Homo sapiens: one gene and its partners. The protein of the gene in region 3 binds, or shares a complex with, the protein of the main gene of each other region. Each region holds a gene or a part of one and is shown on either strand. Other genes may lie near its edges.

The links.
Region 1: the proteins of KCNIP2 (region 3) and KCND3 are in contact, whole or in part, in a cryo-EM structure (PDB 7W6S), measured with the Homo sapiens proteins. Residues at the interface, in NP_775283.1 of Homo sapiens: Arg112, Gly113, Phe114, Asn116, Glu117, Cys118, Val123, Phe128, Ile131, Tyr132, Gln134, Phe135, Phe136, Tyr144, Leu148, Phe152, Phe165, Leu169, Ile172, Leu173, Arg180, Trp183, Ala184, Leu187, Tyr188, Met201, Met205, Ile208, Met211, His228; in NP_001365898.1 of Homo sapiens: Val5, Ala7, Trp8, Leu9, Phe11, Ala12, Arg13, Ala14, Ala15, Ala16, Ile17, Gly18, Trp19, Met20, Pro21, Val22, Ala23, Asn24, Cys25, Pro26, Met27, Pro28, Leu29, Ala30, Pro31, Asp33, Trp54, Arg60.
Region 2: the proteins of KCNIP2 (region 3) and KCND2 are in contact, whole or in part, in a cryo-EM structure (PDB 7UKH), measured with the Homo sapiens proteins. Residues at the interface, in NP_775283.1 of Homo sapiens: Arg112, Gly113, Phe114, Asn116, Glu117, Cys118, Val123, Phe128, Ile131, Tyr132, Gln134, Phe135, Phe136, Tyr144, Leu148, Phe152, Phe165, Leu169, Ile172, Leu173, Arg180, Trp183, Ala184, Leu187, Tyr188, Met201, Met205, Ile208, Met211, His228; in NP_036413.1 of Homo sapiens: Val5, Ala7, Trp8, Leu9, Pro10, Phe11, Ala12, Arg13, Ala14, Ala15, Ile17, Gly18, Trp19, Met20, Pro21, Val22, Ala23, Ser24, Gly25, Pro26, Met27, Pro28, Ala29, Pro30, Trp55, Asp57, Arg61, Arg100.

What each region holds. Positions count from the first base shown.
Region 1 is NC_000001.11:111,986,669-111,994,403, reverse strand, and holds the start of KCND3 (A-type voltage-gated potassium channel KCND3), read left to right. Parts: upstream 1-4,735; 5' UTR 4,736-4,899; intron 4,900-5,229; exon of another isoform or gene 5,230-5,656; intron 5,657-7,735. UniProt on the Homo sapiens protein: Pore-forming (alpha) subunit of voltage-gated A-type potassium channels that mediates transmembrane potassium transport in excitable membranes, in brain and heart. In cardiomyocytes, may generate the transient outward potassium current I(To).
Region 2 is NC_000007.14:120,744,736-120,751,444, reverse strand, and holds the end of KCND2 (A-type voltage-gated potassium channel KCND2), read right to left. Parts: intron 5,666-6,709; coding exon 5,418-5,665; intron 3,765-5,417; coding exon 3,587-3,764; 3' UTR 1,108-3,586; downstream 1-1,107. UniProt on the Homo sapiens protein: Voltage-gated potassium channel that mediates transmembrane potassium transport in excitable membranes, primarily in the brain. Mediates the major part of the dendritic A-type current I(SA) in brain neurons.
Region 3 is NC_000010.11:101,833,179-101,841,224, forward strand, and holds part of KCNIP2 (A-type potassium channel modulatory protein KCNIP2), read right to left. Parts: intron 6,694-8,046; exon of another isoform or gene 6,663-6,693; coding exon of another isoform or gene 6,575-6,662; intron 1,246-6,574; exon of another isoform or gene 1,192-1,245; coding exon of another isoform or gene 1,089-1,191; intron 1-1,088. UniProt on the Homo sapiens protein: Regulatory subunit of Kv4/D (Shal)-type voltage-gated rapidly inactivating A-type potassium channels. Modulates channel density, inactivation kinetics and rate of recovery from inactivation in a calcium-dependent and isoform-specific manner.

The DNA of each region.
Region 1 (7,735 bases), on a different chromosome or scaffold from region 3:
CAGGAACTCACTCATTACCATGGGGAGGGCACCAAGACATGCATGAGGGATATGCCCCCATAACCTGAACACCTCCCACTAGGCCCACCTCCAACATTGGGGGTTGCATTTTAACATGAGATTTGGAGGGGACAAATATTCAAACTATGTCAACCCCACACATAACTTATGGAGGCCAAATACAGGAGAGGTCAAGAGTGTCCTCTTAGGATAGCCCCTCTATCTGACTGAGGAGGATACTCTACTTTCAGAAGCGGGGAAACCAAGGATCCTGGGATAGCGGCAAAAGGGAGAGGTCAGAGTTCCAATCCAGCTATGCAGCCTCACATCCTTCTGGAGTGTCCCTCTCCACCAGCTACCTTCAGGTTCTCTATCAATAAAATGATGGTAATATCTACAGTGCAGGATTATGGAAAATCTAGCAAGGAGCCCAACATATGGTGGCTCCTCAGCTTACAGCTGATATGCTAAGCCAAGCATTTGCAACGTTGCTTTCATCCCTTGGACAGCCTCCTGTCCTTCAGAGCTCCTCTTCCTGCTAGCAGCTTCCTGCGGGCCCATCGAGGTGAAATAAACTCTAATAGCAACTGAATAAAAGCTCACATGCCCAGCTGTGGGAATAAGGGATGGAACGCAATGGCAGTATGAAAGTGAGAGTACCCCAAACCCAAGGGGAGCCTTGGGGAGAATGAGGTGCCACCCTCCTGAGTTTCTCGCTGGAGCTCACTTTCAAAAGGCCTTGCTTTCAGTGGTTAAATAAGGGAGGCTGGGACCACATGGATAGTGAGGGGCCCGGGACTTACTCTTCAGCATAAAATCGGCTCCCAAGAAATGTCCCATGGGCTTCTGACATGGTCAAGCCCCTTCCTCATCTCTATCCCTAGACTCTTCCTCTATTCCTTCAACAGAAATCTCCCTTTTCTGGGACTTACAGAATTAACTATCTCAGCAAGGTGAACTTGACTGCCTGTGGGCTGTGGCCTGCCATTTTTATTGTTACATGCATGGGTGGGTGAGTGACTATATGTGTCTCTGTGTACAATCCGGCAGTTCTATCTTCCTCCTCAGACAGATTTCTTTGCACCTCCTGCCTGCACCACTCCTACCTTGAACAACAACAACCAACAATTATATTGTACTTCCCATGTTCCAGGCACGATTCTAAGCACTTTATCTGTGTTACTTCATTTAATTTTCACAACCCTATAAAGTAGATAGTATTATTTATTGCCATTTGAGAGAGGAAGAAATCATGGCACAGAGGGATTAAGTACCTTCCACATGATCACACAGCTAATTAACAGCAGACGCAGGTTCAAACCCAGGCAGTCTCACCTCAAAGTCTGTACTTTTTACTTCTAAGGTACATAGCACCCTAAATGTAGAAAGGCTGTAACCCTCAGAGGTACAGCCCACCCCCAAAATTCTTGCCCCAGCATGGGGCAGATTGCTAAAATGGGACAGCTATAAGCAGTGAGGGTGGGAGTGACCCTTAAGGACATTCTCAGGCATATGAGGCATAGCTTCAAAGAGAGAGCCTGAACAGAGCAGCCCTGGGAAACAGCCACGCAGACACACTAGCCTGGCACGTCAGCAAAGAAGCAGCCGACTTTGAGCTGGGCTCCCAATTACCCTCACAGTCCACACGGTGACAAGCTTTGCAAATACCGGCCACAGCCATGAGACTAAAGAAGAATCCTCATGTGTGCACAGCTTGGAAAGGACACACACACAGAGAAAGAATAGTCATCCATAGGAGCACCGTCTTTAAATAGAAAAGATAGCCTGAAATACACCCTGAGCTCGCGGGTGCTCACACACACAGACACACACGGCCAGGGCCAGAGGAGTGACTGAACAAATGCCTCAGCTGTGCTGGTGGCAACGGGAGGAAATCTAGTGCCCTGGCAGCTCCTGACTTTCAGTTCCTATTTAAAATGTCTGAATTGGGAGCATCGACAAGCTCCCAAATTAGCTTTTTAAATAGAAGCTGAGAGTTAAAGGAAAAGCGGCCGTGTCATGGGGGAAAAGCAAGTGAAAATCCCGGCCAGGCCGGGACCAGAGGCAGAGGGGGAAGGTGAGGACAGGCAGTGCTGGAAAGATGCAATAGATGACTGGGGACTGGTGGGAGGGACAGCATCTCCTGGGCAGCAGGACTACTCCAGCTGCCCGAATCAAGGGGCCTCCTTTCTCCCCATCGCTTGCTCTCATTTTGCAGATCACCTGGTTGTAGGAAGGACTGGTAAACAAAACCCACACTGGCCTAGACTAGAAATCCCAGTCTTTCCTATTTTCCCTAGATGGTTAAGACAGAAAGGAGAGAATAGTCTACAGCTACCACACTTAAGCAATGAGTTACGAGCTTATGAGGAATGAGGGGGCAGGTGTCTGGACCAGTGTCTGGTCTTCAAACGGAGCTTACGAGTCTCAGGAGGCCACAACTGTCCCATTAGTTGACTTTCTGAGGAGAAATGATGTGCCCAACTGTCTCCTGAAGCCTCCAAACACTGAGGGGGGCACTCAACCCCTGAGCTGCCCCCAAGATGCTAAACAACAGTGAGAATGTACAGGAGTTCAAACCTGGGCAGAAATAAAATATGGGTTTCACTTTCCCGAATTGAACATGGGATGGAGTACTGAAGGAAAGTGCCCCTGCCTCCTGAGTAGTGACCACCCAGGACCTGAGGCACTTTATCCCAGGGGTCAGAGCAACTGAGGAGTGCAGTTGCCAGAAAATTAGCCCTTCCCCAGAGGAAAGGGAGGAGGGAGGTGGGAGCAGCGCCAGGGCCTTCCCCGAATTCTTCCCCTGTCTGCCAGGGAGTGGCAGTGTTGTTAATCATTATTACTGTATGCAAATCCCACACAGCTCCGGGACTCCTGGCAAACGCTAATGGAGCCCACGCCCACCTCCTGAAGGGCCAATTGTGTACCTTTCAAACTGACAGACTGAAGGGGGCTCCGGAAAAAGTAAGAGTGAGTGAATGAGGGACTCCAAGGTGCCAGGGGCCACAAGGGCCCAGACCACAATTACCGACTTCCACTCCTTCATCTGGAAGAGGGCTAGGGGTTCTCACAAGCCAGAAGCCCCGTTCCGGATTCAGGGAGGTCCTTTTCCAGCCCTGGGTCTACAATTGTCCTAGGGTCTAGAACACCCTCGCAGTCTAGAACACCCCAGAGGTCACAACGCACTTTGCATTTCTCTGCCTCGGCACCCACCTCTCCACACCCAGAAATGTGATCTCTCAAGCCAAGCGTTCCCCGTCCCTGCTGGGGCACGGAGCTGCCTCGCTTCCGGAGCGCCAGGCCGAGATCCAGGATTCCGGGCACCGAGGCTGGAGACACCGGGAAAGCCGGAGCCGCGGGTCCGCCCAGCGGCGGGGACTGCGCCCTTTGCGCGCCGCCGCCCTGAGGGTGGGAATCTGGGCCGGACACCTGGCCCTGTGGGCACATGCTGACCTTCCCACTCCCCATCCTGGGTCGACGAGGCACGGAGCAGTGGGGACCCATGGGCTTCAGGGAGGGACTGAGGGGCTGGGCGGGCTCCAGTTGTAAGGGGACCGGCTCGGGTGAGAGTTCACGCTCCCAAGTCCAGACTCCCGGTCTAGGTAGTGGGTAGACGTGGCGGGAGAGGAGGGCGAATCTCGACCTTCTGATGGTGCCTTCGTCCTCCGAGAGGAGAGCGGCTCATAGGTGGGGTTAGAGGCAGTGTGTCCCCCGGGTACCTCTTCAGCCTCTGCACTCGGAGCTGAGAGCCGGGGGCCAGCCGCAAAGATTGCGCGGTAGGGGGCCCCACCTTGCCAGGTCGCCGGGCTTGGTCTCAAGCAGGTGCTGCTGCCCTGTGGACAGTCAGCGAGAAATAGACACACAGCTAGGTGCACACATACCCCACGCGCGCACACGCCGGCCCTCCCTGCCACCTCTCCGTGGGTCCCCAGCCACACACGCCCCCGAACTTACGCTCACGCCGTACTCCCTGCTCCTCCCCCACCCCCAAACCCAGCTCACCTTGCCACGCTCACCCCCGTGCCCACCCTCGCTGGCACACGCGCTCACACCCGCGTCGGTACACTCCGCCACCTCCAGGCACACCCTAGGATTCCTCCACTCGCCCGGGGAGACGCACTAGGCTCTGCCTCGTCTCCCCACCCCCCGCTCACGCGCGCGCCCCTCTCCACACACACAGACACACACACACGCACTCACACTCATACACACCCTCGCGCGCGGAGTCACTCCCCCTCGCACGCCCTCGCCCTGGGCACCCTCCCGCGGCGAGACTCCGGGTCCTCCTCCTCTCTTCCTCCACTGCCTGGCGGCTCGGCGCTCTCCGGCCCGGCCTGGGGCCGCTGGGCCCGCGGGGATCGGAGGGGAGCCGAGGGCGCAGCCTTGCCGCCTCCCCCGGACTCTCCTCTCCTCCCCGCCCCGCCTGCGCCGCGCCCCCACCACCTCCCCCCCTCGGGAAAGGGACCTCGGGAGAGGCAGCCCGTGGCCGGCCGGGCTCCGCTCGGCGCGGCGCCGGCAGCGGCGGGGGAAGGGAGAGAGCGAGGGAGCCCGCGAGCCCGCGAGCGGAGCGGCGAGGCGGGGAGGGGACGCGCTGCCGAGCCGGGGCTGGAGCGGCGGAGGCTGCGGCAGCGGCGGCGGCGGCAGTGGCGGCGGCAGTGGCGGCGGCAGTGGCGGCGGGGGAGGGAGGGCCCCACGGACGGACGGACGCACGAACCGACCGAGCGAGGGAGGCAGCGAGCGAGACTGCGCTGGCGAGGAGGAGCCGCGCGAGCGGCGGCTGCTGGGCGCTTCCCCGCGCTGCTGGGCGCTCGGCGCCTCCGCGGCCCCGGCTCCCGGCCGCAGCTTCCTCGCGCGCGCGGGGCGCCGGGCGCGGGGCCCGGGCTGGCTTCGCGGAAGGTAAGAGGGACGCGACCGAGCCTTCTGGAGCCAGGAAGTGCGAGGAGCGCTGCTCCCACGCCTGTTGCTCCGGCTGCCCACGCGGCACCCTCCCACTCCCGCGCCCGGGTGGGTGGGCGCTGGGGCGCCGGAAGGATTGGGGGTGGGGCCCGTGCCGTGGGGGAGCAGACAGCCGGCCCGGGGGCGTCGGTTCCCTCGGGCTGTGGAGCCACCTCCGGGCAGCCAGGCGCTGGGGTTCGGGGGTGGGGTGTGAACCTCTGCCCTCTTTCCATTGGCCTGTCTTCCCTCGGCGGGTGCCAGAGACAGGTGGCGAAGGCTTGCTCCGTCCCCGCTCTTGGTGAGGGGACAAGGAGAGAAATGGCTGAAAGTGGAAACCCGGAGCGGTTTGGGGCGCTTCGCAAAGTTCTCCAGCTCGGCGAGCCGGCGGTGTGTCTACCAGAGGCTGGGGGCCAGTCCATCTGGTCCTGCCCGACGCCACTTCCACCCCGCGAGCTCTGGGAAAGGTCTCTACGTGACGCCAAGGGCCGTCGCGGCCCCGGGGAGAGGGATCGAAAGACTCACTCTGCGAGGTGTTTACACTGGAGGTGGGGGACGGGAAGGGACTGGGCAAAGTTACCTGGACTCAACTAAATTCCTGCGCTTGCTTAGTGTTGACATTTGAATAGGATCCGAGATGTTCTGCTTTTATCCCGGGCAGCCCTGATATGTCAGCAACAGGCTGAGGTTCCAGACCTGAAATCGCACTGCAAGAAAAAGGGTCCGTATTTCTTAAGAGAGAGCGTCTGAACTTTCTCGGGGTCCTAGGCACAATGCGATCTGTTTGTAAGACCAGGCATGCGTTGCTGTATTTTGCATGAATGTACGTGATGGTCAAATGTATGCCTTGTTTACCTTACTTCGAGGGAGCCTGTATGTTTACTGTCTGTAGAAAGGGCTCCTGGGTGTCCACGAATTCAATACAAAGCATGTGTACATTTCCCCATGTGGACCTGTTGGCACACAGGAAGGGAACTGATGTGTTTATTTTTTCCTCGTCTCTACTTGAATGCAACAAAATGCAAGTATACAAGGGACCCCCCAGAGAAAGAGGTTAGTAGCTTGTTCCCTTTTGCTCTTGAGGAGGCTGGAGAAAAAGAGTTCAGGAAAGTGCCCTGGCTAGCCTAGGAGTGGCACCGTTGGAGAAGAGGATCTGTGCGTGTGTCCCAAGCCTGTCCCCCAAGGATCCCCAGCTTGGTTCACCTTGTCAGTTTCATGCTTTGCCTACCAAAATCCTGTGAACACAGGAGAAGCCCTCCGGGTCATGGGCACCTTCCTCTGCCCCCAGACCAGCCCCATTCTGAGCTAGGGGATGTGATGTGAGATTGTGGAAAGTAAGTTTCCAGAGGCTCTCCACTGAGGTCATTGAAGGACAGACCTTGGTGACATGACTTTTTTTGCTGCCTTATGCCTGTACTCAGCTAGGTGTCAAACCCCAGGACAAGCTGTCTGGTCACTCCACCCCCTTTTGGCCTTTTACCTCCAAAATAGAAGCTGTTTAATGGAGTAACTGACTTTTTACAGCAGGGGAAAATGTTTTCCTTTGCCAGGATTTGTCACCTTTTTCATTTCAGAGCTTACCTGTTTTGAATGCCTCTTTTCCAGCCTCCCCCCACCCCCTATCTTTCCCACTGTCAAACTCTTCTGCCAAAAACAAAAATAGCTTCAGATTTTTCATTTGTAAGGCGTCCACGTCCTAGTAAAACCTTGGCATTTGAGGCATGTGCAGTGCCATTGGCTGGAAATGGGGCCGCACTGTTGTGCCTGTTGCAGGAATTCATACCCAGGCCAGCTCCGGAAGGTGTTGGCTCCTGTCAGGGGGTGAATGCTGCTGTATGAGCTGTGGAGAAGGCCTACTTGAGTGGGTCATTCCTGCAGTGTTGTGGGGTGGGTATGGCCAGTGTGGCCTTGGATATGGTATCTGGTGGGACACTTGTCCTCCCCTTTCACCTCCCAACCCCCACACACAGAGAAAGTAACAATGGGGTAATTGCTCCTTTTTTGGTATGTTTTACCAGGGGGACAGGGGCTGAGCCTCTGGAGACAGCCTGGTGCTTGCTTGGCCTTCTTTAGGAAGATTGCCCTGGATTCACGCATGGGGTAAACATTTGGCTGTGGGACCAGAAGCTTTTATGGTCCCAAGATAGGGAGGGGTTAATTTTTCCTTCCCCTGAGCTCTCAATTATTCATCTGAAAGCAGTTTGTAAAGGACTGGTGGTCCTTGGAGATTGGCTTAGGGTAGAGAGGAGAAGGTGATGGGACTCAGCTTGGCAGGGGCAGGTACCTGGCATTAAAGCTTGGGAATCAGGGTAGAGCAGGACTAGGAGAATGAAAGGGGAAGGGCATCACCCTTTCAGGGGGCAGAACTGTGTGTCTGGCCACACAGGGTTCCACAGGGTGCCTCTGATTCAGTGATCTCTTACTTTTTGCCTCTTGAACCCCCTCAAGATTCTGCCTCTCTGAGCTTTATTCTGGGATAAAACAGGATATTAAGGGTCAAAGATCCAGGGCTCAGAGTCTGGGAGCTTGGTCTCCTTTACTCTCTAGGAAGGTGGCCAGGGGTTCTGTGGGTGAACTAGGCCTTGGATTGCCCCTGGTTTCCAAGTGACACAGGTTGTGTGCCCTGTGCTGAGCACCAGCCTCAGCAGGAATTCCCAGAGCTCCCTTTGCTACCTTGAGGCTCAGGCTAACTCCATCCTCACAGCAGTAAGCCCAGATGCTCTACTTCCTTCTTTGCATGGGTGATTGTCATTAAGAGGTCTCAATGAGACCTAAGCTATAGACTTGATGTCCTGGATCC
Region 2 (6,709 bases), on a different chromosome or scaffold from region 3:
AAGCAAACTTGCTGTTCAAAGCTAGTAATTCCTTAGAAGTAAAAAATCAAACTCTGTAAAGAATATTTTAGTATCCTAATACAACCAGCTGAAGTAGATAAGACTTAAACCTTCGTAGGTACAATTTAAACCTTCATTAAAAAAATACTGTGTGCCTACACAATTGTGTTGAAAATTCAGATGTTTACACAGTGCAGAGTAATAACCATTCTTGTACCAGTGAGTTAATAAAACAAACACCTTAATGACACTGTAGGGAAGAGAAGATGCCTTTCTTATGAAACTCTAAGGAGTTATCAATTTACTTTCAAGAACCCTTTTTTATTCTTTTGAGCAATGTTACTGGCAGACACATTATAGCTCCCAAGAGGCTATTTCTAAGCCAACATTGTGACTAAGTTGAAGGAATAGGGAGGCATATTGAACTTTTTAATGCAAGATTGATACCTAATAAATCAAAGGCTATAAATGAAAATAATTAACAAGAAAAGATAGAGACTATCCACCAAGAGGACCATATATATCACCAGTTAAAATCAGTCTTTCTACTAAATAATTTCCTTTGTGTCTTTTTCCTTCTTCTATAAACTCTTAACATTTTCTTGCTTTTTAGCCCTTTCAAGATATTAAGAGAAACCATTAGTGGTTGCATATTAAAAATGAATGAAAATCTATGTATATGTGTATGAACAAATTTATATCTACATATACACATACATGCACACAAATGGCTAGGCAAATAAATCACCCCGCTTTCCTAGGTAGAATAAAGCCTTTGATTAAGAATTTATTTAAGTTCTGACCAAAACCATTACCCCTGAGCTTCTCTGCTTAATGCAAGTAGTGGTGTTTAAGAAGTATATAAGGTTCAGGGACTGGCTTTCCTTAATTGATACTATCTTTTCTGTTAAAGTCCCTGCCTTAATTCCCATTACTAGCAAAAGCTACTGTCTCCACCCATTCAGATGAGATTTAAGCATTACTTTCAATTGCTGTGTCCTTTGAGTTGTATGTCTCACAAGGTCCTCCAACATGTGTATTATGAGTGTGGCATATCCTAATTTTGGGAAAGGAATGAAATCTAAGAAAATAGGGCAACAGTCAACATTTTGTCCTGTTCAAGCATGCACATGTTTTATTTAAGTATTCTCCAAAGGTCTATTTTTTTCCAGCATAATGCAGATATTATGCTATCCTTTGAAATAAGATATATGAATTTCAAACAAAATTGTCAAAAACAATGACCTTAGTTACTCCATATGGTACACAGAAATAATTACATTTCACTTACAATACAGATGCACTTAACACAGTCATCAATAGTCATTCACCACCAACACGGTATATTTTTAAATCACCTAAAACATCAAAAAGTTTTTTTTCTTTTCCAAAAGCCTAATAAAATTAATAATTTTGGGTAAGTGATAAATCAAAAGAGGAGGCAGAATTGTCAATTGAAATAACCTAACTGCATTTTCTTGTATGTAATATTAAGAACATGAAAATAGAACTTCTCATTGGGAATCAAAAGACATAGTAATTCTGATTATGGTTTCCTTAGTCTACTTTTTAGAAGGTTTTCAATAAATGCCATCAGATAAGTTTCACTAGACATTGCTCTAGAAGCATAAACTGACATGAGGCAGGTGTTAATATAATTGTTAATATTTGTACTGCTGGAAAATTAGTAACTTTTTAAAAGATGTACTAGGAATGAAGCCAGTTCTTCCCAAGAGATAGTTGAGTTTATCTTACTTTCACTCAGCAAATGTTTATTAAGATCTAATATGTGCATAGCACTGTTCTAGAAACTATTCTAGAAATGGGAAGCAAGAATTTCTGGCTTTACTAGAAAATGGTTGGATTAATCCCTTTTTATGATTAAATATCATAAGCATTTAAAAATCTCATCTCTGACAGAGGGATAATTATTAGCTCTTTCCATGTACAGAAGCTAAGCTTTATTCCTTACAGTGGTGGCTTGGAATGAATAAAAACTTTGCATTTGACATTAAACTTTTTTACACTGTCATGTGCAGACATGTCTGCTGAAATATTTTAAGGGTGAAAAGTTATAAAGACTTTTCACTTAAATGTACAGAGATCAACTTTGCATCATCAAACTCCTGTTCTCCTGATTTATTGGAGAAAATTGTACCTTGCAATACACAGGAACCTTTCTGAGATAAATTTGTGCTGCCTTCCTGAATGGCGTAGAAAGCATGCTTTCATCAAATATTGCTAAATAAAGCACTCCAGTGTATCTCTACATTTCAATCCACATTAGTTATTCTCAAAATGTATTCAAGATCTAAAGCAAAATAAATAATGCATCAAGTAAGATTCTGAGATGATTGATCCTGTGATATTAGTCCCAGTCAATTCTGTTCATAAAATACATAGTGATATATCCAGTATCTGGGCTTTTCCATAAACAACAAAGACGTTAGAGATAATTTATATGGGTCAACTCCTTTTTTTCTAGTTTTCGACAAGGGGATTGATGACAAGCTACTTACAAGATAATTTTTTTTGGAAATACAAAAGTAGGAAAGTCACTTGAACTACAGTAAACAGTAGTCTTGTTGATGATGATAAACCCAATAGAGAGGTGCTATAGAAATACAAGAACAGATAATGCACTGTGTCACAGGAATACAGTGGACCAAAAAATATTACTGAAAAACATTTATGGCACAATAGTTTTGGATTAAAAAGTTACCTAAAACCTGGCCACACCAGAAGTTTTTCTACGAATGTGGCTCTTACCGTATCTATAAGGATCTGGAAAGTACAACAACAAAAAAATCCTGATTCCTGATACAACAGTTGTACAACAAATTATTGCAGTTGTAACAGTATCTAGGTGCAAAGTTAAACGATAATGAATACTGAACTATCTGAACACTTTAGATTTACTAATGAGCATCCCCATGAGAAATACTGCAGGTCTAAAAGGAGTTTATTTGCACAGCCCACCATGGAACATGAACACTCAGCTTGTTGTAAGTGCACAGAAATTACCCCTTTCTACAATTATAGTTTATCATGCCTATTCTGAAGACAACATAAGGAAACTGAGATCACTGCTTCAAAGAATTCTAGCATGCATTATGATGGTTTCCTTCAGTCAATACAAATATGTTGTGTGAGTTTTTTTTTCATATGTAATAATCTTCATCATAGCCAATGTTCATGGTTTTAACAGGAAAAAATTTTATCAAAATGTTTTCCATATTTTTTTTGTTTTGCATTCAACTGGAACATTATGTTCAACGATTTATGTTATTTATTTTATTAAAAAAGAGTTCTGATCATAAGAAGCATCAGTAGGCGGCATTTCATTGTGCTCATTCACAAAGTCAAAGGGCCACAGAATATTACTCTGTATAACAGGTCAAACTGTCTAGAAATGCCATTTGGTGGTTTTATTCACATCCTTAAGATTGGAAGCTTTGTGTTTCACTACCAACCTTCTTTCTTTGCTGCATTAATCTGCAGAATATTTATTGTTTCTTCTTTCTTCTATGTTGAGATTCTTTTCACAGCCAGGGCTCGAATTCTCTTAGACCTTATTCCAATTGTCTTACAAAGCAGAAACTCTGACAATATTTCCTCCTGAGTACTCAGGGGATTCTGGCCTATCGTCTCCTTCTGGTGTGGTTACTGGAGGTGTTGGGATGCTTATTATTGCTGTAGTCACATAAGGTTGTTCACAGTTTAGTTTAACACACTCTTCCATTTTGGCATTTAAACTGGATCGGCTGATAGAAAAAAAAATATTTAGGAAAGTAAGTTGTTTACTTAAAATGTTTTTCATACAACTGAAGAATATGTGTTGTAATGCTTATAAAAATATTTTAATTGTCTAAGGAAAGTTATTATAATTAAAAATATGAAACACCAAATCTTAATCTATGTTAAAGATGAACATAGTAATTAACATTAAATAAATTTCTAAAAGACAGTTTGACTTGGTTCCATCAAGTATTTATCAAACTAAATGTATTATAAAAAAATGTAAGAAAGAAAGAGCTTCAAGTAAGATTTGGACAGCCTGGGCTGAGCAAAGAAGTTTTATTTAAGACAGACCTCTGAGAGGTTTGAGAAACCACTATGAAAGAGCCATATCACATTGATTTCTTAATTCCTTTGACCACAGAATATTTTTATTTTCATGTCTTTTTGGGATATATAATGCCCTCAAACCTCTGAACTTAATGATGATCACATATTACAGAAATAAAAAAATTATCTATTACTATCTAACACTTCAAGCTCCCAAATGGTATTATTGGATGAATTGTATACTCTATGTGGGGAAGGGGATAAAAGGGAAATGAGAGAGAAGGATATACACAGAAGCTTGAAACTGATTATTTTATTTTCATGGAAAACATAATTAAGATGTTTATGTCCTAAGATTTTCTTGCTAGATAATTTTCCATTGTCGACTTCACTTTATAAAGGATATAAAACTGCAAAGCTAAAATATCTTGAAGATAGAAGTCTTATGGCTCCTAATTTTAATTTTCTAGTCCCAGAGACATCCAATTTATGTAAATCAACATCACCTGAATTCAGAATCTCATCCAGATTTCAACAAAGACTTCTGAATGCCAACAAAGAAGAGGACTGAATTTACAGACTCTCACTCTAACAATATATGCTGTTCAATTTGAAAACAGAATAAAATTATTTTGGCAGAAACTGATTTTTAATGACATATATTGTTTAAATGTACAACTTTTTATTTTTACACATTTGTGGTAAAAACAGTGAATAAGGAAAAGCAAAGGAAATATATCAATATGGAAGTTTTACTTAATTTGTTCATAAACTAACCAGAGGCAAACAATTTTAGTACTTCACTTATTTTTTGTATTATGTTGATTTTGTGTTTGATATGGCCAAAAATACCTTTCTGATCAAAATTATATATTGATAGAAATGACTTATGTAGGCAAAGTTTTCATTTTTACTGTTACAGACAGTGTGTTTGTATATTTTTACATGCTGTTCAATAATTTTTAGCCATGTTGATCTCAATTTCATTTGACTCTTTTAGTAGTGTCCACCATCATTTCAGACTATTGAATATATAAGAGACTCCTGAGTATAAAAGTCCTTGCCCAAATAAGAAAAGGTTGTGGAACAGAAGAGAGAAAAACACATTTGTGTGCACTCAATCATCTCTTCTTCTTTCGACTCTTTTAATACTGATATAACCACTATTTTTAACCCTTAATGGATATGCAAGCAGAACCATTTTCCTACTTGTTACGCTACCATTTTTGTCTCTTCCTGAACCATAGGAGCTAGGGATTTAGATGCCATGTAAGTGACAACATGAGTGCAGAAGACACACCCTGGGAACCAGCACAGGTGTGTAGACAACACAGATTAATCTCAGGTACCTGTTAGACAGAGGTGTTCTCTCCACACATCTGATCTGAATCGTGCTGAGTTCTTGTATACTACCTTGATGGCTTCCTGATACATTGGCATTTGGGATGCGAAAAGTTTTTTTGTGTCGTCGTGAACAGCAGGTGCTGGTGACTCCTTGTTGTGAAGACAGTGAAGGACTGTGACTTGAAGGACGATTAACAGTTGCAACTTCCATGCAGCTTTCTTCAAAGACTTGTTCGTCCACAAACTCGTGATTCTGTTCCACAGTTGTAAGTAAATGAAGAAACAGAGAAGCACATTTTTAAAAACGAAATACATAGCTTTATTTTTAAAGCTCAAATCTGCCCAAGTATAGTTAGACTTGATACAATGGTTAAATAAAACCATTTTCATAAAGATTGACATCAAAACCACTTCTTTTTGGCATTTATGTGGAACTATCTCTGTAGTTAAACCTAGAGATTGACATCTGTAGGCTGATTTAGTGTCCCTTTATAGACTAACTTTATCTTGAAATATCATTTATTTATTTAAACATAAAATCTGGAAGGTATATGATAAGGAAAAAAAAAACCTAAAAAATGCATATAGATAAAACCCACAGGGAAATTAGAAATTCCCACTGACTTTATTTTTTAAAAAGGTTGAAGTTATGGAAAATAGATTATTTTAATAGGATGCCCCAAGTTAGATTGTCTGTTATATATTAGCAAATCTTTTCACATGGGAGTGAAAACATTTCTAAATTAGAAAATGAGACCCCTAAGACACTATCCATTTCTTTATATGTTCCTCTAAAAATGCCCAGTACAGAAAAATATGACTTATTCGTTACATAAGTAAAATATAATTGTCTGCCGAATGTGTCACTCTGTGTTCGACCCAGAAGGGATTAGCATTGAACTTTTGTGGCCTTTTTTGTAATCTTCGTAATACATCACTGGCATCACTGGCTGTACTCATGATCTCTGTATGCATTTGGGGTTTTTCCGTCACTATTTCCTAACTTCCAGCCCAGTAGCAAATAGCAATAGGCATCATTTCGCATATCGTATTTTATAGAAACATGGTATCAATTTTGCTTTTAAAATGTTTGACAAAAAACCTCCTGAAATGCCTATGGAAGAATTTCACCTCAGAAATATAAAGGAAAACATTTTTGGTCTGAACTACTAGAGAATGACCTCAATTACTATTTTGTTTTTCTTTGCATGGGTGGGGATAGTCTTATAATGGAAGGCTTTGCACATACCAAATTCCACTTAACCATCTCTCATCCTAAAATATGAGTAAAACAATT
Region 3 (8,046 bases):
TGGTACTGGGGAACAGCCATGCTACGGAGTTACACAGTTCTAGCCGTGAAGAGGAGGGAGAGGTCAAAACTCCCAAGGGGGAGGCAGAAGTGCTCCCCACTCCACCCCAATATTACTCTCCCTACTGACTTTGGGGTGGGCTGGGGAGGGGAGTTGATTTTCCACTCCCAATGTCTAGGCCCTGGAGATCACTCTGCACTTGGATCCTGATAGGAGCTTGGAGAGGCAAGGGGACTTGGGAAGCAGGGTCCCTGATCTGATCCACTCCTCATCCCCAATCATAGCTGGGCTATAAATGTCTCCTTCACAATGTTCACACTCTTCCCTCCAGAACCCACCTCCTCCCAAGCCTTGGGTATGGAGCTGGTATATCCTCAGGAAATTCTGGAAACAGCCACATGCACAACCTGATACCCAGAGGCTCAGCCACATACTGTGCCACTCAGGCCTGGCCACATCCACCTTCTCACAAAGCCACATGCCCTGTCACTCTCACACATACAGTCATATCCCTGTCCCATACACAGGCTCACAGTTACACACTTTGTACTCTCTCACATACAGGAACACAAAGTCACACCCTGTGTCTCTCACACACTATGCCCACACACCCCATAAGCTACACTGCACAGATGGAGGTGTGGAGAGGATGCACAGGCACCGTGGTGGGCCCCTGACTCCAAAAAGGACCCCCCAGAAATCCGTTGTTATCTCAGGATCCCTAGAACCTCCCTCCTCTACTCTAGACACTCCTTCCCTATCTCCAGACCCCTCCTGGTATCGCCCAGAATCCCCTCACCTCCTCATCTCCACACCCCAGTCCTCCCACACTGCACCCCTCATCACCTCCTGACACCTTGGTCCCCCAGATTCCCTCCTCCCTCCATATCTACTCCTTGAGGCCTCCTCTTCACCCCTCCCAGATGTTGTATCCCCCAAGCACCCCTACTCACCTCCCAGATCCCTGTGCCATCACTCACCTGCTCATCCCTGCCCCAGTCATGAAGACAGACAAACACCCTCCCTAGTGCTGTGGGGCAGCTGCCCCACCAGCCAGCAGCTCAGACATGCCAGGACACCTGGATTACCTTCCAAGGAGACAGGCTCAAAGAGGCCAAACTGCTCCAGGACCTTGACAAACAGAGCGAGGACCACGAGCACAGCAACCATCTCCAGCCCTTCCAGGTTCATGGTGGGCCTGGGGCATGGCCCCTACAGGGCCCAGGTTCAGATACGCCGGTTCACCGCCTCACACCACCTCCCCCTCAGACTCCCCAGCCTGAGTAGGACTGCCTGCAGCCTCCCTCCCACTCTCCCTCCCAGGATCTCCTTCCTCTCCCCCATCACCCCGCCTCTGCCCCACAAGCCTCCCAACCACAGCCGCCGCCTCTTCCTCTTCGCAGGGCCACCTCAGCCTTTGGACTGGCACCTCCTTGGGAACTTTTGGCCAAGATATGGGCCAGAGGGAGGGAGCAGTGACCCGCCTCTGTCCCTGAGAAGTGCTTCCCCTAGACATCCTGTGGCTACTCTGTGCCAAAGGGAAGGGGCAGAGGGAGGAGCTGAGCTTAGGGAGAAGGCAGGGAAGGGCAGGGTGTATGTGCATGAGAAACCACCATCTGCACATGTATAAGTAATCAGATGCATGGGTCAGAATATGTTGTGGTGGCCAGGTGTTTTCCTGTGTGTATATTCCTGTGTTTGTCAGTATGGCAGTGCATATGTCTCCTCTTATGTGTGTCTTTGTGTGCTTACACGTGACTGTGCACCTGTCACAGAGGTGTGTGTTTGGCGTATGGTTATGCATTTTGACTCTTGCGTATATGGGTATGTGAGCTGGGTGTCTATGGTCTGCATGTGTAGGAGTGTGTTGAAGTATTTGTGAGTGTGCATGGGGAGTGAGGTTCCTGTGTTTTAGTAGGGTTGTAGGATGTGGGTCTGAAGTTTGTTAGGTATGGATGTGTTGTATAATTTGGAGGGTGGGTCTACTGTTTTGTCATTGTATTGGCATGGAATTGTATGAGAATAATGGCGGAGAAGGCAGTGACCTCTCCTGCTAGGAGGATATCACCAATATCGATTTGGTTGCCATGGAGACTGTGAGGAGGGAAGCACTCTCTTCCCACAGGCCACAGGCAGTGAAACTGAGGCCCAAGGGAGGGGGGATAAGATACAGTAGTAGCCTAGGCAGAAAAAGGCCACTTAACCCCATCAGGACCCTCTGGGGAGGGGACTTACTGCAGCTGCCTTTGGGGTCAAGAAACCCAAGCTTCTTGGGAGAGGAGGGGGGACTGTGCTGGCTCCGTATGTGGCTGGGACCTCATCCGGGAGATGCTAAAGCCCTGCCTGCTCCTTAGGAACTGTTATTGAGCTGATGGAGAAGCCCAGCTGCTGTAGGAGGGAAATCTGAACCTTCTAAGGGAGCCACCCCTCCCAGCCAGCATCCCCGGAGTCCCTCCCTCCTCTTCCCTGCTTCTTCTTGGTGGGGTGTTTGTGTGTGTAAAGGGGTGGGGAGAGGCCTACAGAGCCAATGAGCCACAAGACTAGGGCCTCTGGGTTAGTAACACCATTACTACCGCTGCTGGCTAACGGTGACTGAGCATTCACTATGTACTAGATAATGCACTATGTGCTTACAGGTGTTGTAACACCGAATTTTCACAATAAGCCTATGAAGGCATACTATTATCCTCATATTACAGGTGGTGAAACTAAGTCAAAGAGAAGTTAAGCAAATCTTCAAGATCAGAGCTTCAATTTTAACCCAGTCTGACTCAGCCTTCACTCTAAACCACCACACTACACTGGCTCCCTTCTTAGAAAGCTGGCCCAGCCAGGAGGCCCAATTTAGGGGGATTGGCCCCAGAAGGAGCCCTCCCTCTTGTCCAGCTCTGGGATGACTGTGTCTCAGCCCAATTTGTGGGGTGGGGGCCAGTCCCTAAGGCCCCAGTCGAGGTTGGCTGATCTGCAGTTCTATACAGCCACCACCGGGGGGCACGCGTCCAACCTCACACAGTACCATACACCTTCCTTCTCCCCGACCTGCCCCATCCAGGGAAGAGGTGGGAAGATGACGCTTCACACAGGCTTTTTTTTCTCTTTTTTTTTTTTTTTTTTTTTGAGACAGAGTCTCGTTCTATCACCCAGGCTAAAGTGCGGTGGCGCTAGCGATTCTCGTGCCTCAGCCACCGAATAGCTGGGATTACAGGCGTGCACCACCACGCCCAGCTGATTTTTATATTTTTAAATAGGGTTTTGTCATGCTGGCCAGGCTGGTCTCGAACTCCTGGCCTGAAGTGATCTGCCCCCGTCGGCATCCCAAAGTGCTGGAATTCCAGGCGTGTGCCACCGCGTCTGGCCTCAAATAGGCTTGGTCTGTTCCACTCCTTTCCCCTAGGAAAAAGTCTATTTAGGGATTGCTTGCCAATCCCTAAAGGTTGGATCAGGAGTCCCAGACCAGCCTGGGCAACATGGCGAAACTCTGTCTCTACAAAAAATTAGCCTGGGCTGGGCAAGGTGGCTCATGCCTGTAATCCCAGCACTCTGGGAGGTCGAGGCAGGTGGATCACGAGGTCAGGAGTTTGAGACCAGCCTGGCCAAAATGGTGAAACCCTGTCTCTACTAAAAATACAAAAATTAGCCGGGCGTGGTGGCACACACCTGTAATCCCAGCTACTTGGGAGGCTGAGGCAGGAGAAGTGCTTGAACCCAGGAGGTGGAGGTTGCAGTGAGCCGAGATCACGCCACTGCACTCCAGCCTGAGCAACAGAGCGAGACTCTGTCTCAAAAAAAAAATAATAATAATTAGCCTGGCGTGGTGGCACACACCTATAGTCCCAGCTACCTGGGAGGCTAAGGTGGGGAGTTTGAGGCTGCAATGAGCCATGATTGTGCCACTGTACTTCAGCCTAGATGACAAAGTGAGACCCCATCTCAAAATAAACAAATAAACAAAGATAATATTTATCCAGCACATTTTGTGTCCTGGATACTTTACATGTAGTATCTCACTTAGTCCTCATAATAAACCTGAGAGGTAGGATCTATTATTCCTGTTTTTACAGCTGACATGGTCAGAGTGAGTGATAGTATACCCATTTTGCAGATGAAGGAATTGAAGCTCCCCGCCAAGATAAGCTCCCTGCTTATCTTGGGAAAAAAGAGTGATTTTTTTTCCAAGATAACAGCTGACATGCTAATTAAGAATGAGTTTGGCTGGGTGCAGTGGCTCACGCCTATAATCCCAGCACTTTGGGAGGCCGAGGCGGGTGGATCACAAGGTCAGGAGTTCAAGACCAGCCTGACTCACATGGTGAAACCCCGTCTCTACTAAAAATACAAAAATTAGCCAGGCGTGATGGTGCTTGCCTGTAATCCCAGCTACTCAGGAGGCTAAGGCAGAATTGCTTGAACCTGGGAGGCGGAGGTTGCAGTGAACTGAGATCACGCTACTTCACTCCAGTCTGACTGAAAGAGCAAAACTCTGTCTCAATAATAATAATAATGATAATAATAATGAGTTGTTTAACCAGAGTCAGTGATCTGTCAGCTCCCTCAGGCAGTCTCTCCAATATGTGCGGGGTGTCAAGGAATCCTAGGGCCTACAGCTTAGTTTAGGTAAGGGAGCTATGGGTAATAAAATCAAAAAGGGTCAAATTCCATGAAACCTTGAATGCCAAGCCAGACTATTTGAATGGAAAGGGGCCCCACAACAGCCCCTTCTTGCTCCCTGCTACTGATAACTTGCAGCCAGTTGCCCTGGACCTGGCCCTGGCCCTGGCCCCTCCTTTTCCTAACTCCCACTCTCAACTCTCAGAGACCTTGACCCAGCCTTGCCAGGACTCATGGTCCTAAATCAGCCAGGCATCCTGTGGCAGAGTCTGTCAGGAGTGAAAGGATGAGTTATTTTTCCAGGCTGTCCCTTCTCCCCACTCAGAGACTTCTCAAGTCCTCGGGTTCAGTGAGAAACTTGCCAGATCCATCCTCCCCAAGCATCCCTGTGCCACGAATTTAGCTCTTCACTCAAAGTAAAATCTCTGTGGAAGCAATTTGGCAGAGTGGGAACTCAAGGGAAAACCATCTCGAGGCATGAGGTGGGCCTTCCCCAGATCCCTCAAATCTTACCACAGAGATATTCCTATCATTTATTTATTTATCTCCCCCAGTTCAAATGTGAGTAACACTGCCTTGTGGGGGAACCCACTCTATGCAACTGTCCCACCTTCCCCAGTTTAGCTTTGTCCCACCCCCCACCGCCACTGTTAACCCAGCCAGTGAAGACCTCAAAGCCCTTCTCTCAGTCCCCCAGACCCACACCATTCCCAGCTAGGCCAAAGACACTGCAGCCCCCAGCTGCATCGAGTGATTAATGACCTCCCTAGACGTTGGGGCTATTTTGGGTCCTGGAAGTCATGCCTGCAATGACTGAGAGCTGGCCCTGCCTGGCTCCAGCCATCTGTCACTGGAGACAGGCCCAAGCAGGGGGCTTGGAGGTTGTATGCTCCCCAGAAGATTTCCAGGTATGGTTCTGGCTCAGGACCATCCATCTACCCTCCTTTTGGGGGACAGATGGCAAGGAGAGGCCACAGGCCCTATCTATACTCCAGGGGCTCAAGTGGATACCCATGGAGAGAGCCAGAAAATGACAGATCTCAGAATGCCACAGGACCAGGTTGTTTTGGTCTGTTTGAGGTCAGGTACAGAGGAGACGTTGCGTTCTATGGGCCCTGCCCAAGCAGTCATAAGGAAATGCAAGTGGAGATGTGCATACACCTCAGCAGTGCCGTGGGATACTCAACAATCCACACCTCATACACTCCACAAATTTCACACCAAGGTACAACCTCACGAAGGCTACACAACCAACTTAGAGGCTCAGGAACCCTCAACCCAGTCCTAAAGTACAGAACTCCAGGTACACACAGTCTCAGTGTCACAGAATCCCAGTGATCACAACCCCAGGGAGACACAGACTCAGCCATACATAGCCCAGTGATGCACAACTTAGTAATGCACAATCCCATTAATACACACTCCCAGAGAGAGAGAAAACAGAGACATACAATCCTTAAGCCACACAAGTCTATCAGTCCCATGTCATGTATGAACTTGCTAGCTGAGTTCATGTTGGTCTAGGCCCATCTCAGGGTTTTTTCCTTCTGGACACTGAACCCTTCATCTTAAGACCCCTTCAGCCAAGAAATGCAGGAAAGGACTGAACTTTTTCCCTGCTCTGCTGCAGGCCTCCTCCTTTCATCCCTGGGAGGCGCCCTGCCCCTCAGTTAAGGCCCCCTCCTCTGCCTTCGGTGAGAAGCCCCGCCCCCTCCACCATTGTGAGGGACCTTGATGCCCCTCTCCTTTCCTCTTTGAAGAGCGCTGTCTTCCTCCTGCTCAGTAAGGAGGCCCATCCCCTGCTCCGCTTCTGTCCAGGATCTCGTCTTGGAAGCCCTTTCCTTGGAGGGATGTTGCTCCCTCCATCTATTTGAGGGGCCCTTCCCTCCCTACCTCTGCGGAGCTCCTAACCCACTTCGCTCACTTTTTGAAGGATCCTGCCCCTCCCTTCCCTTCCTCATCATACCTGGGGACAGCGACCCAGTCACCAGCTGGTAGAGGGATCGCGCTGCCTGCCCCAGCGGGCTCCGGCACCTGCGGGGGCATCGGTTCATGGTTTGGCGGCGAGCTCGGCGTCTAAGCTCCACCCCCAGGCCCCGGGGCGGTCCGGTCTCCGCCCTCACCCGGGTAGGCCCGCGTGGGCGGCGCGGGAGGGCCGGCCCGGCAGGCATAGGATCGAAACCCTGGAGCCTTCCCATGTTCTCCTGGCCGCACGAGAGGAGCTCACCCTGGCCCCATCATGTGAAGCAGCCGCCCCCAAAGTTCCTGGACGGGGGGGGGGGGTGGCGGGGAGGGGCGGCGCGGACTCAGCCTTCTCAGGGAGCATTTTTCTGGGTTCTGGCGGGGAGGCCAGGCAGGCACATGTGGGTTTTGAGAAAAGAGCTGGATGGGGAATGAACCGTATCTTTTATTGCCCCCTTTCAGCCCCCCTTTCTCCGCCTGTCGCACTCCTCCCCGCACCCTGCACCCCGCCCCCACCATTTTGGCATAAAGAGCCGAAGGGGTAAGAGGACAGAGTTGTCATGGCAACTCCCCACACTTCCTGGGCCAATGGAAGAAAGCCAGGAGGAAGGAGAAAGAGGCCAGTGTATTGGGGTGGCAAAGAAGAGGCAGCAGAGTTGTGCCCCACTGCCTTCTGTCTCCTGGCTCCAAATTCCTTGCTCTCATAACTGTTTCTATTTGTGTTTGTCTCGGTGCGGCAGGTTCACAGACTACCACCATACGCTGGCTACAGCCGAATGCTTCGAGAAGAGCCCCCCCCGCACCCCCCCCCCACTTCGGTCCCGCTGCGCCCCTTTCCTGGACTCCGGACTCATCTCTATCAGGTTAGACCCCAAGTAAACACTTCCAGGACTCTCTAACGCCTTAAAATTCCTGGGAAAGCCTACGGGAGAGATATAGTCCCGCTCTTTCGACTGGGATCCCGCATGATTGGTTGAAAACCCTACATTTAAGTGGTGAGAATGACCTCCTAACTCTGGGCAAATCTTGTCCACTTGACGGCGACTATCCCCACCGCAAAGCAGCTCCGTGCGCATGGCTCCTCGCAGCCACACGGGGGCGCCCCCGCCCCGGCAACAATACTCAGGGCCGGAGGGACTCCACTGAGATCCCAGTCGGGGGACCGAGCTCAGGGCTAGCCAGCCAGGCTCCAACCCTCTCCGCATCTTCTCTTGGCCTTTCTCTCTTCCGCTCAGACAGGGCCGCTGCTAAACGCGGCCTTTCCCCTCGGAACCGCACTGCCCAGCGGCCCCGCCGGGCTGGGAAGACCTGAGGGATTAGACAGGGGTCCGGGCGGGGCTCGGACTGTTTTTTGTTTTGTTTTGTTTTCCTAAAGAGTCTCTCCCAGCTCCCTTTTGAGCTTGGGGTGGGAGTGGGGAAGTAAAATGTTCGGAGGTACCCAGGATGCCCTGAGGTGTAACTTTCCAGCTGCTTCCC